2 linked regions of the Homo sapiens genome follow. The protein of the gene in region 2 interacts with the protein of the main gene of each other region in a pairwise test. Each region holds a gene or a part of one and is shown on either strand. Other genes may lie near its edges.

Evidence for each region. The genes of interacting proteins can lie anywhere in the genome.
Region 1: the proteins of RHOH (region 2) and PLEKHG5 interact in binary tests that used the Homo sapiens proteins (3 or more experiments, as listed by UniProt).

The regions. Positions count from the first base shown.
Region 1 is NC_000001.11:6,488,649-6,496,665, forward strand, and holds the start of PLEKHG5 (pleckstrin homology domain-containing family G member 5), read right to left. Parts: upstream 3,020-8,017; 5' UTR 2,989-3,019; intron 1,933-2,988; exon of another isoform or gene 1,797-1,932; intron 1-1,796. UniProt on the Homo sapiens protein: Functions as a guanine exchange factor (GEF) for RAB26 and thus regulates autophagy of synaptic vesicles in axon terminal of motoneurons. Involved in the control of neuronal cell differentiation.
Region 2 is NC_000004.12:40,192,630-40,200,046, forward strand, and holds the start of RHOH (rho-related GTP-binding protein RhoH precursor), read left to right. Parts: upstream 1-4,401; 5' UTR 4,402-4,671; intron 4,672-7,417.

The sequences.
Region 1 (8,017 bases), on a different chromosome or scaffold from region 2:
CCCCTGTACCAGGGCAGTGGGGTGGGCCTGGGCAGGCTCCTGCATTCCCACCTCCTCTCCACAGCAGGGAGCTGAAACAGCTCAGGGGCAGGCCCAAGAAGTCCTGGCCCCCAACTCCCTGGGGAGGGAGCCCCTCCCCAGCCCAGCCCCAGCTCCAGGCTTGTGAGTCAGGGCCGGCTTGTTGAAACTGATACCCAGAAACCAGATGCGGAGGCTGATGAATAATGGAGTCTCCAAGGCAGGACCCCCGCACCCGGCTGTTCTCCCTCAGTATCACCTCCCCCAGCCCCAGAAAAGCAGATGGGAAACCAGGGATCCCCCAGGCATCCCTGCCCCACAACGAGCTGGGGCCCCAGCCTGGTCTGGGTGGGAGAGGGACTTCCCTGTCCAGGAAAGGACGCAGGTCTGGGGCCAGCTCCAGGCTCTGCCGACAGCAGACGGGCCTGGAACCAGGAGTCCGAGCTCTCTGGCTGGAGGGATGTCCTTGCCAGGAATTCCCACCAAGGCTAAGCTCCCCTGGGAGCCTGCTAGTCCCAAGGCCCCACCCAACACCTTAGAAATCCAGGGGTGGAGACTGCATGCATGGGCAGGCCAGCCAGGGCGGGGTGGCTTTGCCAGGCGGCTCTCTACGCTCCACCCGGCCTACCCACCCTCCTTTCCCCTAGGCCCAGGCCTCACCCATCACCCCTTGGGTTCTGAGGCTCACCTGGAGTCAGAGCCTGACCTAAGGCCCTGCCCTGTGCCGGGCAGATGGCAGGGACACAGAAAACCTCTCCCCAGGCTAAGCCCACCGCACGGGCCCTGGAAGCCAGGAAGGCCCCTTCCTCCCCAGGGAGCGGTCCTGGCTAGTATGCCCAAGGCTGGGACCCAGTGCTAGAGAAAGAGGGAGGGGCTGCAGTCTGTGAACATCCCCTCCTGCCCAGCCTCTGCAGTTCCCAGCCCCAGACCCCAGCGTGTGTCTTCGGAGCACCTGGACTAGCAAGCCCTTCCCCGGTGCAACTTAGAAGCCTCCTTGGTAGGGAGCGGGGGAAAGAGGGCACCTGCCTGGGCTTCAGAAGACCTGGTCTGGAGCCTACGTTCCCCCACCCTTCCCCTACTGGGCCTCAATTTGCCCACCTGTGCCAAGAGGGCATAGAATTCAGTATCTGGGGATGGCTGCCAGGTCCTAGTGTGTGCCCGGACCCCGGCTAAAGGGCAGGAGAATGGTAAAATACCCCCGAGCTCCCTCAACTTGAGGAGTTACTAAGGAATCTGCAGGGGACCTCTTGGCCTCCATTTCCCAGACTTCCACCAAGGCAGGCCAGGGCCTCCCCGGATTCACGGGTCTCCCGCATCCCCCACCCCTAAGTGGGTGCCTGGGTCTGCTCAGACTGCCCGAGGCGCAGCCTCTGGCGCCCCCTGCCGGCCTCGAGAGGGCTTTTCCGCCTGGGACCGACTCCGGGACTGGCCAGATGGGGAGGATCGGCTGAGCCTCCCAGCCACGCCGCGCGCCCGGGCCCCTCCAGGATCCCCCTGCCCCGCCAATACCCCCCATACCGGGGCCAGGGTCCCATAGACTCCTCACGGCCCTATCTCCGAGCCGACCCACCCTAGAGACACTGTGATGGGGGCGGGAGCTTGAACCCATTCCACCCTCACGTAAATGGAGATACAGCTGGTGAGGACCCTGTACCCACCCACAGGCCTGGCACTACGTGGGAATCTCGAATCCGGGTTCTGTCCATCGGTTTAGGGGGGTCCTGGCGCCTAGTCCCACCCCCCGTCCGGAGCGCAGCTCCCACTTCCCCGCGACTCACCTAGGAACAGGACCAGGGTCTCCTCCCCGGTGTCTAAGGCTCTAAGGCTCGGGCCGAGACTGCCAAAGCCTCATGGGGCGCGCGGGGAGAGGGGGACGGGAGCCGCGGGACGGGCTCAGTCGACTCAGCGCAAACTGGGGCGCGGGACGTAGGGGAATTACGGTAGCCGCGCGGGCGCTACCACCTGGACCGGCCGGGATGTACCAACGGCGCCGCCCGGCTGGGACCGGGGAGAGGAGGGGTCCCAGGAAGGGCCCCGCGCCGGAGCCAGGGAGGTGGCTGGAGGCCGGGCGGTGGCTTGGGGTAATCCAGGATCCGGGCTCAGGGGAGGGGGTGGGGGGCGTCACTGTCCCCGAGGGGCCAGCCCTTTGCAGATCTCCAAAAAGTTCAAAGTCCCTGGTCATTAACTTGGGCTTGAAGACGGGAGCTCGCCCATCCCGGAAGGGGGCTAGGGGGGACCAGGGCCCGCGACAGGAAGCCTCCGCGCGACAGAAAAGCCCCGGGGGACCAGGCAGAGAGACCCGCAGGCCTAGCCCGCCCCGGAATCGCCCTGAGCCAGGTTCGCTTCCGCTCTATTGTAAAAAGCTGGATTCTGATCTGCGGCCTCCGCGGTGCCCCAGAAACAGCCCGCTTTTCTCTGGGCCCCCTCTTTTTTTTTTTTCTGGCCCAGGTGATATGGCCGGAAAAGGGTGCTGTTCTGCCATTTAGTGGTTCCCAGTTCCCCTCTCCCAGCAGCGGGAGTTTAGAATAACTCTGGGCTCAGGACTGGGAAGGGTGTGGATACAGGGGGCCCACTCGAGGAGGTGGAGTTCAGGTCCACCAACCTGTTCCGCACTTTCAAGCTTTTTATACAGCCTTCCCCCGACCCCTTCCCAGGCCAAAACCTCCAGACTGCCCCACACAACCCTTGGGGCTGGGCCTATACTAGGGCAGCTCCTGGCTGGGCCAGGGATCCCCACGTCTTCACCTGCTCCCCCAAAACTACTTAGCCAAAACCCAGGAGTCCCCTTGCATTGTTTCTCTGGCCCTGCCCGTTTCTTCAGCTGCAGATAGCCCCACCACCTCTCTCCGGGGACCAGTCACTTCCAGAGATGGCCCAAACCTGGCCATTCCCTGGGGCATCCTGGTCTGCCGCTGCTCACCCCCAAAGCATTGCCCAGGAGAATAGGTGATTGCCTCTCCCATTACTCACATCCTGCCCGTCCCTTCTCCATGGGGGCCTCAGGTCCACCCTTTCCTCTCCCTGGTCTTCATCTCACCACCCCTCCCTCCACACACGCATACCCTGACTCATCCCTGCCACCTCACAGGCCATTGTTAAGCTGCAAGGGAACTCTGAAGTCCTCCCATCCAACCTCCACTCCACACTGCAATCCCCTCTACGCTTCCCTTTCTGTCTCTTCTTGCATATGTCTAGTGATGGGGTGCTCACTACCTCCACTTCGGGGATAGCTCCAGCTGCTGGAAACTCTTTCCTGTAGTGTGCTGAACCCCACCTCCCTGTCAAGGCCTTTGGGAGCTGTGCAGAAAAATTCACCTCCCTTTCCTCCTGAGAGTTCTGAGGAAATGGGAGGCTCTGACAGAGAGGCCTGGTTTGAGTCCTGATCTTGCCTTGCTTGGCAAGTCATTTTACCTCGCCACTCTGCAGGGCCCTCTCTAGGAAACGGAGATGGGGTAGGCCCCACCGCAGCGGGGGAGGCGGCCAGATGAGGTTTCTGTGCCAGGCGCTAAGGCAGGGCCTGGCATACAGTACGTGCTGGATCAATGGCGGCTGCTGGAATCACTACCTCCTCCATGATAAACACCCTCACATGTGGTGCCCAATGTCCCCTGTGGCCCAGGGCCACAAGTGTCCTCCTCCATGCCCCCTTGTGACCTGGGACGCCCTGACTAGACCTCGAACAGTGCCCAGTGGAGCCCAGCAAGGAGCTGGGGAGTCCACACACTGTCCCGTGGCCACCTCACAGGAGGGCAGGGGGAACCCACAATATCATTAGTCTGCCTTGATCTCCCGGCCTTTCTCCATCTCCCCAAACTCACAGCTCCACCTGTGTGCAAGAAGCTGGGATGGAGCCTGGGGAGGTCTCAGATCCCAGGGCAGGTACGGAGGGCACACCCAAAGTCTAGAGGTGACTTTGTTACCCCCACTCCCAGGACACCTTGCACACCTACGCTGTGCTAGGCTCTATGCTAAGCATGTTATATATGGGCCTCTTTTAATCCTCGCTGCCGGGTTATTTTCCAGATGAGGAACCTGGGGTTCAGAGAAGTGTAGTGACTTCCCCAGGGTCGCACAGCTGGAAAAAAGTAGGTTTGATCCTGGAGCTCAGAGGTGTGGACTGCTCTACATATCTTCATCCTGGGGAGGGGCCATTTCTCTCCTGGGGTCTCCATGACACACAGTCCAGACCCCTCATCTGGACATGCAGGTGCTCCTAGTGCAGCCTGCCTCCCCCTCCTCCCGTCCCCTTCTCCCTGTGCCCCCTGGCCTCGCTTGCCCCTTATAGCCCCCAATGTCCCCCCCTGCTCACTCAGCTGTCCTCCATCTCAGTACCTCTTTAATCCTCAGGACTCCAGTTGCCTCCAGGAAGCCCATCCTGGTTAGCCCTCCTCCCAGTGGGAACTCCAGGGGCAGGAGGTAGGGGACAGATGGCAAATTCATCTCAGAAGCTCCAGCACCCAGGAGAGCCTCAAATAAAACATCAAGGGTGGGCCCAGAAGCCGAAGGGTCCAGCCCTGCCTGAAATTGGTCCTTTGCCAGGGCAGCCTGGGGGGAAGTTTGGCCAGCCAGGGTCACTTCCCTTCCTTCCTCCCAGCACAGCTAGAATGTCACCTCCAGGAGGGCATCCCCTTTGTTCTCTGGAGATCTCCTGGGCCTAGAACTGGGCCTGGCACCGACAGATGCTCAGAGCTGGTCTGGTAAATGAATAAATGAAGTCATCTCCTTCAAAACGCTAGTCACATCCTGGAGAGTAAGAATAGGGCTCTTGATCAGACAAGCCTCACGCAGGCCAGGCTCTGACGATCATGCTGTGTGATGTGGGCAAGTTCCTCTACCTCTCTGGGCCTCCGTTTCCTTACAAGTCATGTGGTCATAAGAATAACGCTGTTCTCCTGAGGGTCTCAAGAAGCTTCACTGAGACAAGCAGGAGGGCCTAACGCCCCGCCTGGCATGTAAACATGTTCGGTCAGCAATAATTGTTATTATTATTATTATTGGGTGTTTTTTGAGACAGAGTCTCGCTCTGTTGCCCAGGCTGGAGTGCAATTGCGTGATCTCAGCTCACTGCAACCTCCTTCTCCAGGGTCCAAGCGATTCTTCTGCCTCAGCCTCCTAAGTAGCTGGGATTACAGGTGTGTGCCACCATGTCCGGCTAATTATTTTTTATATTTTTGGTAGAGATGGGGTTTCACCATGTTGCCCAGACTAGTCTCGAACTCCTGACCTCAAGTGATCTGCCCACCTTGGCCTCCCAAAGTGCTGGGATTACAGGCATGAGCCCCTGCGCCTGGCCTGTTATTTTTGAGACAGGGTCTTGCTCTGTTGCCCAGGCTGCAGTGCAGTGGCACAATCACGGCTCACTGCAGCCTCAATGTCCCAGGCTCAAATGATCCTCCCACCTCACCCTCCCCAGTAGCTGGAATTACAGGTACCCACCACCACACCTGGCTAATTTTTTTTTTTTTTTTTTTTTTTTTTTTTTAGACGGAGTCTTGCTCTTGTTGCCCAGGCTGGAGTGCAATGGCATGATCTCAGTTCACTGCAACCTCTGCCTCCCAGGTTCAGGCAATTCTCCTGCCTCAGCCTCCCGAGTAGCTGGAATTACAGGCACCCACCACCATGCCCAGCTAATTTTTATATTTATAGTAGAGATGGGGTTTCGCCATGTTGGCCAGGCTGGTCTCGAACTCCTGAGCTCAGGCAATCTGCCCGCCTTGGCCTCCCAAAGTGCTGGGGTTACAGGTGTGAGCCACCACGCCAGGCCTTTTTTTTAATTTTAGTAGAGAGAGGTCTCCCTATATTGCCCAGGTTGGCCTCAAACTCCTGGGCTAAAGCAGTCCTCCTGCCTCAGCCTCTCACAGTGCTGGGATCGCAGGTATGAGCAACCACACCCAGCCAGTAGTGGTTATTATTATCATCATCGACAATGTTATTCTTTGTTTCTCTTACCAAATCTGAGTGCCCCGCACCTCCTCTCCACCACTGCCTCTCCCTTCCTGGACTGCCCTTGCCTCTGTTCTGTCTATCCATGTTTTCACATCCATTAAAGGCCCCCTCCTCCAGGATGCCCTCCCTGACTGGCTCTCTATGCCTCTGATAATTCAGGCATTTCTGCCCCTACAGTGAGTCTGTGCCATTTGTCCCAAAGGGCGTCCCAGTAGTGACAGGGCCCAGACTCTCCCCGTGCACGCTGGGTGACCCTCATCAGCTGATGCCAATGTCAGCTGTGCCAAGTTCCAGGCAGGCCAGGGCTGGAGGTGAGGTCTGGAGGCTGCAGAGGGACCATACCCACTCTGAGACCAGCTCTCTTCTCCCAGGCCTCACCTCTATGAAGGCTGGGCCATCCCACCCCTGCCCCTGCCTGAGCAGCTTGAGGACCCCCCCTGAGAGCAGCTGCCCAGAGGAGGGGCTGGGACAGTGTGCCTTATTGCCCCAGCCGCCCCTTCAGGTCAGGCAAAAGCCTCGGGGCTCCGCAGGCCTCTGGCAGGATGTATATTGGGGGGAGCTGAGGCCAATTTGTTGCCAGGAGCCCCCATCTGGGAAAGAGGCAACCAGCCAACACCAGAGCCCAATGCCAGGCACCATCCGTGCCAGCAGATTGTATCTGACATCACACCGCCCCCCTGCCTGGTGACCACGGCAACTGGAGGCCGCCCCCTCCCCGCCCCGCCCCATAGCAGTTCTCCCTGTTCCCTCACCACGGCCCTCCTGTGCAGAACGAGTGTGTGTGTGTCTGGGTGGAGGTGCGGGAGGGGAGCGGGGGGTGGGGGGTGGCATTTTACATTTCCTGCAGCTGGCAGTGCTGAGACACATGATGGAAGACAACACGGGCCCTGGTATGACACAGACCTGGGTACTGGGTTCAAATCCCAGCTCTCCCACTTCCTAGCAGTCTGTCCCTGAGTGAGCCTCAGTTTCCCCATCTGTAAATGAGAATAAGGACAGGACCATCTCAGAAGGCCGGAGGAGGAGTCAGTGAGTCCTGGTGCCTGCGCCAGATGCTAAGTTGCGCAGTTGTCACTATTGTCATGTAAATGCATGCTGGGAGGGGCAAAACCTGGCTCCAAACCCCGGCTCCATCTCTCATGAGCTGTGGGCCTTGGCCAAGTCACTGGACCTCTCTGAACCTTGGTGTCTTCATCTGGAAAACGGGGTGACGATGCCTTCCCTGCAGAGCTGCCGCAATCAGTGCATATGGCACAGAAAGCGGGTGGCACTAAGCCCAGCACATCACAGGCAGAAGCGCCCAGCCAGTACTATTATCCTCCTTCCTGCCCCCTTTATCCCTGATTTATACTTCGCCCCACTCCCAGCTCCCAAGCCCTGGCACTCCAGGATCAACTGGCCCCTTCCTCCTTTTGTCATCCCCAGGGCCATGGTCACACTCGCCAAGTCCCAAAGCATCTCAGACCCATGCCCAGGCCTGAAGAGTGGCTGAGTTCAACAGGAAGGGTGCCATCTGGGCACTGGACCAGCACCGTGGGAGACCACTTCCCCTGGCTAAGCCTCAGTTTCCTCATCCGTGACATAAGGCTACAGCTCCTGTCACCTCAGAATGGCTGCTAGGACCACAGTGCAGCAAAGGGCTTTGGGGTACTCCACCCCCCTGTTCTTGTAGAAGTCCCCCGACTCCACTGTTCCTGAGCTGGGGGCAGGCCCTCTGCCTCCTAAACCAGACACACTGTGGCCCCACCTACACTTGAACCCAGCCCAGCCAGCCGCGCCCGTGCCAGGGCTCTGTGGATAGCTGGTGCTGGGATAGAAAGGGCAGTTAGAGCCCTGGCCCCTCTGCCCCCGAGGGTCCCCAGGCTCTCCAGCCTCCCTACCTTGGCCGCCCGCCCCTTGTCCATGCAGGCGGGGTTCTGACAGCGCAGTCCCTTCTTTTCAGCGGGGCTCTGGTCGTCTGCAGGGGAGGAGCAGAGGGCATCAGTCAGCGGGGCACCCAGGCTCCCCTGGGCCCCACTGGCCTCCCAACCGGAGGAGGGGTGGGGTGATCTCC
Region 2 (7,417 bases):
AAAGTAAGCTGTTCTTTTGCCATATCAGAGAACATTTCTGATGAAGGTGGTTTTGAGAAAGTAAGTCTTTGCTTTTTCACCTTGACCTGAAGGGGACCGTTTGCACAGGGAATCCTGGAGGGGGCATGTTTAGGGCCAAGAAAATGGGCCTTGGGGCTCTGGCTGCTCCTCGTTGCCCACGGTGGTTCAGTTCTCTCTGTGGGGAGGCAGCGGGAGTGACAGCCAGGACAGATGAATGGGGTGAATCTTGGTTCTGGTTTTCTTAGGCCATAGGGTCTTATGCAAATCATTTAACCAGCTGAAGTCTCTGTTTCCTTGGCTGTTAAAATAGGGTTTAAAGTGTTTACCATAAAGGGCAGCTGTGAGGCTGTGAGATGGGAGAATCAATCTATTTATTGGTCAGAAAGTGGTTGTTCAGTACCTTGGATTTCTGAGTGGGCAAGGCTGGACCCTGAGCCCTGGGACCTCTGAAGTGAACACTGCAGGGCCATTTGGTGAGTGCTCTGGCCGTGTTAACACGACGTGCTATGGAGCCCTTGGGAGGGCACCTCACTGGGCTTGCAATGGAGGTGGGTGGTGGCTACAGATGGCTTCCTGGAAGATGGCTCAGAGGGGGGCTCTGATTCCCAGTTACGAACTGTGGACCCATGGTTTCCCTCCTCCTGCCACTCTGAAGTCCCCAGGATTTCTCCCAACCCCATCCCAAGGACAGACTGCACAGCGTCAGAAGGGACACGCCCTGGGGCTTGGGTGCGTGTATGTCTGTGAATGTTTGCATGTATTTTCAGCGTTTGCTTCCTCCCCTCACCACTACCCCTGTCGGTTAAAAGTCTGTTAAAAGAATGAGAGCGAGAGAGAGAGAGAGAGAGAGAGAGAGAGGAGAGGAGGGGCGGGGTGGGGGAGGAGGGGAGTGGGGAGAGAGAAAGAGAGAAACACCAAAAAGACATTTTCAAGGAAGGAAGAAAATTAGATGGCAACCCCCTGTCCCCTCCCCCTAAGAAAATCCTCTCTGAGATTAAACTGTGTGAAGATTAGAGGCGTGTAGGTCAGGAGCAGGAGGAAGCCCAACGCTGGACTGTACCAGATCATCTAAAACTGGCAATTCCAGGCACAGAAAACCAGTTCTTCAGAAGCAGAAGGGTGGTCAGCCAGGGGGTGAAAGGGACAGGGGTCTCGCAGCCAGGTATGACAATGCCCTTCCTAGTCCTTTCCAGGATGGGGTGGGACACACCCAGTCCATCCTGACTCTGGAGTACGTCTCCACTTTCGTGCAGAAAATGGTACAAGGCCTGAGGCCTGGAGCTCGTTATAAATCATGCTGGTGGCGTTTCTTGCTTTGTTTCCCAAAGGGCAGAGCCTCATCTCCCCTTCTACTTAGGAGATGGAGGGGATCTGTCCATACAGGCAGCTGTCCTTGTCTGACTCCTCTGCTTTCTGAAGGGGAGACATTGTCCCCCTTAAAGGACACTGGATCTCCTGTTGGAGGGGCAACCAATTTTGAACTCTTTGCCTCTTTAAATCTTTTAGAAACTTGGATGAGAGAAACTTTTTATCCTGAATTTTCTGAAGCATATCTGAAGTCATTTTTCTTTATTATTATTATTATTATTATTTTTTAGGCTGACGTCTCACTCTGTTGCCCAGGCTGGAGTGCAGTGGTATGATCTTGCCTCACTACAACCTCTGCCTACTGGGTTCAAGCAATTATCCTGCCTCAGCCTCTCGAGTAGCTGGGATTACAGGCATGAGCTACCGTGCCTGGCTAATTTTTGTATTTTTAGAAGAGACGGGGTTTCACCATGTTGGCCAGGCTGGTCTCGAACTCCTGACCTCAAGCGATCTGCCCTCCTCGGCCTCCCAAAGTTTTGGGATTATAGGCGTGAGCCACAGCACTCGGCCTATTGTCATTGTTATTATTAGTATTATTTTAGAGACTGGGTGTCGCTATGTTGCTCAGGCTGGTCTTGGACTCCTGGGCTCAAACAATTCGCCTGCCTCGGCCTCCCAAAGTGTGGGGATTATAGGCGTGAGCCACTGCGCCCGGCCCATGAAGTCATTTTTCATCTCTGGATAAAACTGGAACATCAAAGTGGTGCTGTGGGGTGGCACATTCTTACTAATCTCCTGCTGCACTCTCCCTGCCGCACACCCTGGAGTTGCTTTTAGTAAACTCTTCGGTGAGATGCAATCAGCATATATGGAGGAACAGCGTAAGGAACCACCTCACGGACTTGTGGCTGGCTGCGTGGAGTCTAAACATGGTGTTTCACTTCAGCCGTGTTGTCTTCTCTATGGGAATCCAGGGGGCAAAGTTTCTCTTTAATCTCAGCACTGGGGAGCCAGGAAGACCTCATGATTCTGAGCTATGTGTTTATGTTTCTCCCGCGGGCAATGAGCTTTCTGTGTGGTGATATTTCCTGCTTCATACCAGTTGCTGAAGAGCATAGAACCACGTGGCATACATTCTCTGTAATTAACCTCACCCCCAGTTTTAGTGTCATTTTTGTCTTCACTTCTCTTGGCCTCATTTTCAAATTTCTTGTTTTTAATTGTTTCATTTTGCTAAGGTGTAAGTATTTTTGCCAGATGCTCTAAATCCTTTGATGAACAAAACCAGAAGTAGATAAAGAAAATATCCACAAGCTTATGTTCTGCTCAGCTGATAACATCACCATGGTGATCTGGCTTTCCACAGAGGATTTTCCCTTTCTTTCCTTTCTTTCTTTTCCTTCCTTCCTTCCTTCCTTCCTTCCTTCCTTCCTTCCTTCCTTCCTTCCTTCCTTCCTTCCCTCCCCTTCTCTTCCTTTTCCTTCCCTTCCCTCCTTCTGTCTGTCCCTCTCTCTCTTTTTTCGAGACAGGGTCTTGCTGTGTCCCCAGGCTGGAGTGTGGTGGTGGATCACAGCTCACTGCAACCTCAACCTCATGGGTTCAAGCAATCCTCCTGCCTCGGACTCCTGAGTAGCTGGGACTACAGGTGTGGTTGCCCAGCTAATTTTTGTAGAGATGGGATCTCACTACGTTGCCCAGGCTGGTCCCGAACTCCTAGGTTCAAGCAATGCTCCCCGCTCAGCCTCCTAAAGTGCTGGCATTACAGGTGTGAGCCACCGCCACTGCACCTGGCCTCCCACAGAGGATTTTCTAGGAGATAATGTGCTCTTCAGAAGGCTCGAGGATCTCAGCTGGCAGATTGAGTTCTTACTGTGCATTAACAAATTGACACATGGGTTCATGTGGAAGTCTTGTGAACTTGGTAATTGGGTGTCTATTGATAAGAATGCTCACCTTGTACCATTGATTCCCTCTACAACTATGCTGCAAGCACAGTCATCTGCTTTCACTTCTTTGAACATGCCAACCTCTTTCCCACCTCAGGGCCTTTGCACATACTATTTGCCTCTACGTGGAATGTTCTTTCCTCCTTCTCATCCATTAGAGTGGCAGCAGTACTTTAGAATAATCAGAGGGGTTTAAAATAATATTGATGTCCGGTCCCAACCCAGCTCAATTAAACTCAAATCTTTGAGTGTGGGGCCGATGCACTGATAAAATAAAATAAAAGGCATGGAGTTGACTTTATCCTTACGGTCGGCAGGTATTTTGACCAAGCTATCACCGTGAGCAGTAGCATCAACAGTTAGTTATTCAGGGATTTGGGGCACAGGCGGTTGTGACCACATCACAAAAGTTCAATTTGTTGGGTTAGGCGTTTAGCCATAACCTAAGTAGTTGCAGATGGTCTCTACACCTGGATTGCCCATTAGGACAAAACAAGTAAACTTGTGTTTTTAGGCAAATAATGAAACTCTGAGGAGTCTGAAAAAACAACTCATCGCCAGGTAACTCCCAGCCCAGGTGCTCGTCCATACAGGGGTGAACGCACGGCAGGGGGCTGCTCGAACTCTCACTAAGCCTGCCTCTGTTCTTTGCAAAATATTTGATAGTTTTTAATGCAGCAAAGCGAAGCAGACAATCCACCTCTTGTTTTCCCCAAGCTGATGGGGGGAAAGTTCTAAGGTGTTGTTTCCTAAGCTCAAATTAACCAAGATTGGTCAGTGGCATGGACTTTTTTTTTTTTTTTTTTTGGTAATTTTACTTCCATGAGGAATCATTTGGACTCTTCAGTCTTCCTTTCTTCAGTTTTACGTAGGGCTTTGCTGGAGGAAAATGGGGCTAAGGGGGAGAGAAACATAGTCTCGGAGTAGGGTGGGGGATAAATTAAACGCAAACCCAGCGGTGCGGCAAAGGCCTTATTCTGCCTCTGATCTGGGGAAGTTTCATATTCTAATGGAGAGAAACGCACGTGCACACACACCCCCCTAAACCCACACAAATGAAACCCCCTCTGCGGAGAAGCCGGCTACAGGAAATTGACTTAGGCACAGGAACTTGCTAATCTCTTTTGTCACATTCGGATTGCTCCTGCTGCCCCACACACACTAACCCAACCATCTTGGGGTGGACTCCCTGCCAGCCCAACTGTTGTATTTTCAGTTCTTCCAGTGTGAATCAGTTAATATTCTCGGGAACGAGGGAGAGGTTGATCCTATGAGGAAATCAACCACAGTGAAAAGGCTTGGGCCGCTTTTGTTTTCACCTGCTTTTGTTGAACAAATTTGATTTCCGGAGTCAGTCATTTTACTGTCAAGACATTTCTTCGGCATTCTGCAACAGGTAAGGATTTTGCTTCCTTAAAAGTATTTCTTTGGTGTCAAAAGAAATTTTTCTAATTTTATTTAGCTTTTACTCTAGGCCAAACATCGTAATGACTCTGAGCTACCTGCTGTAAGGTGTAGAATCAATTTACAGGGGGACGGGGGTCGGGGGGGTGAGTGTTGCTTTGATATTCACTGCCCCTCACCACAGTCCTAACAAGATTTTTGAAACATGAAAAGTTACAATAGTTGGCTTTTTGGTTTTCCAGATATTCTAGAGAATGCATATGCTTGTGACTGTGGCTGAGCTCAACTGTATGGGTAGTTTAAATACTACCCAAGGTTTGATGAAGTAAATCTAAAGATGCTCTAAGTTGTGCAAATATGAATTTTAAAGTTGTCTAGTTCAGAAAAGAAACAGAACCGAAGTCTAAATGATGTAGATTTCAATCTGGAATTTCTAGCTTGTGTTTTTCACCTATTGCCAATGTTAATGACCATTTCCCAAAAGTGCTCTATGATGTATAACATGTATTTTTTAATTAAATTTAATCTTTCTTCTGAGGTGGTTTGATTTGGAGATATGCTACGAGGTACCAGTCAGTAGCCTGAGTTGTAACTAAACAAAGTTTGGGAAATCACCGGTTTTAGGTGCTTTACTAAATGAAAGTTGCCATTGACGTATTCAAGCAGGCAACAAGTAGTTGGTGTCCCCTTATTGGTTCTAAGCTGGTGCCGTGGAGGATATAAGAGAAATATTTTAAAAATCTCTACTTTGAAGGACCCTATAATCTGGTAGTTGTGATAAGAAGTAAAATTTAGGAAGCAATGCAAGATGAGAATTCAGTGATGAGTGGGGCAGCACAGGCTTGAAGAGTTCTGTGAATTCCATGGAGGGGGCCTGGGGGCAAACTGGAGTTGTCAGGAAGATCTGGGCTTTGGAAGAATGCGAAGTGTCGGTAGAAGGAGAAGGGGCAGGTGATTTCAGACTGGGAGGACCTTGTGGGCAAAGGCACAAAGGCGAGACTGACCTGGAGATGATAAGGCCAGTTGAAGAGACACTGGAGAAGAGAAGACAGTTTGTTTTACACATTGCAGGAAATCAGATTAGACAGTTAGGGTGTGGACACAAAAGCGAGGACCTTGCAGGCACTGGGGAGAAGTGACCCCATTCAATAGTCCTTGGTCTCCTTCTGCCCTGCGGCTGCGCTTCCTCGGCTCTCACGGCACCAGCAGAATTCCATGTGAGAGGGAGCTTGTCGAGCGTGGCCTCTTCCCACTTGGGGCTGCTTTCTGCATCCCTGTGCCTGGCTGTGGGCCTCCATTTGCCCTCTACTGTCTTCCCTTAGGACATCATTTATGCAGAGAAAGGTTCGTGTGGCTCGGGGTACCAGTAAGACCTCCACCTCTGGTTTCTTCATTTTAAGGAGGCCCTTCAATTATCCAGGAATTAAAGTGGCCTTCCTCTTGGGAGAACGAGTTGGTTGATGAATGATAAGCAAGTCTCTATTCCTCAAAAGCCAGTCCCCAAATTCCATGAAATATGTGCTACTTTCTTTGCATGTCTAAATGAGATGGCACGGGTATGCTTCTGTTCTTTTTCTGGACGTTGTTTAGAGAGTCAGTAGATCATAATAATTCAGACACTTTTTTTCTGGACCATAAAATATCTGAACCCATATAATAACAAACATACAGCACGGTGAATAAGAACCCAACTTTTGAGCCAGATCACTTTGCATGGAATCCCCATTCTATCATTCTATCATTTCTGGGCTGTGGGAACCTCAGACAAGTTACTTAACTTCTTCAATGCTCAGATTAAAAAAAAAATTCACAAAATATCTCTAATAACAGTAATAATAACTGAAAATACCTACCTCAGAGGGTTGTCGTAGAGATCAAATGAGATAAAAATATGTAAAGCATGTAGCCTAGTGCCTGACTGAAAAAAAAATCTCTCAATAGATGCAACTCTTATGATTCTTATTAAGGACTTGGCTATTGCCACAAATGAAGGTGTTATGAGCCCTGGCTTAAGAGCAAGAAGCCTGCAAAGCTAACTCTCCTAATCCCAACATTCCTTTCCAGGGAAAGTAGGGTGACAGGTGGAGGCTGGGAATTAACGTTTTTTGAGCACCAAATATGGACAAGGCACAGGGGTTGGGTGTTTTTCTAGTGAGAATACATATGAAAGAAGGAAAACAAACTTGGAAACCGCTATTTTAAGCCATTTGGTAACAGTTTCTCTAGCTTATGAGATGAGAGAGGTCCTCTCAGTATCCGCTGCATTACTTGTGGGCCTCCTTGGTTGACGTCGCTCTCTGAACGCTTGGGGTGGAATTCTAGAGGTGCTTTTCATTAGAGGCAGAGAGCATGACCTTTCTTCCTTGCCCAGTTTAAATTAAATTATTTTATCTTACAATGTGTTAATTTTAGTGCTAGCAAGGCACAGCTAAAATTCCATTTCTACTTAGGAGTGGGGATCATTGTGGCAGTGAGTGCTTATTTGGGTTTGGGATGCTTGGATCTGGGTGAAAGCCAGGATTAAAAAGCATCCTCCTTCCCCATTCCACTCTCTAGGTTATAAATATTTTTTTGGATTAAAAGCCTCCTTTAAAAAAATGCAAATCCACCTGGCATGTTAATTGTGCAGGGGATTCCTAATTATGTGTGCAGATGACGTGAGTCACACGGTGATAGTGTTCCTTCTAGAGTCCCACTGGTGTCCTAAGGGAGGAGACTCTGGAGCTTTGTGTATGAAA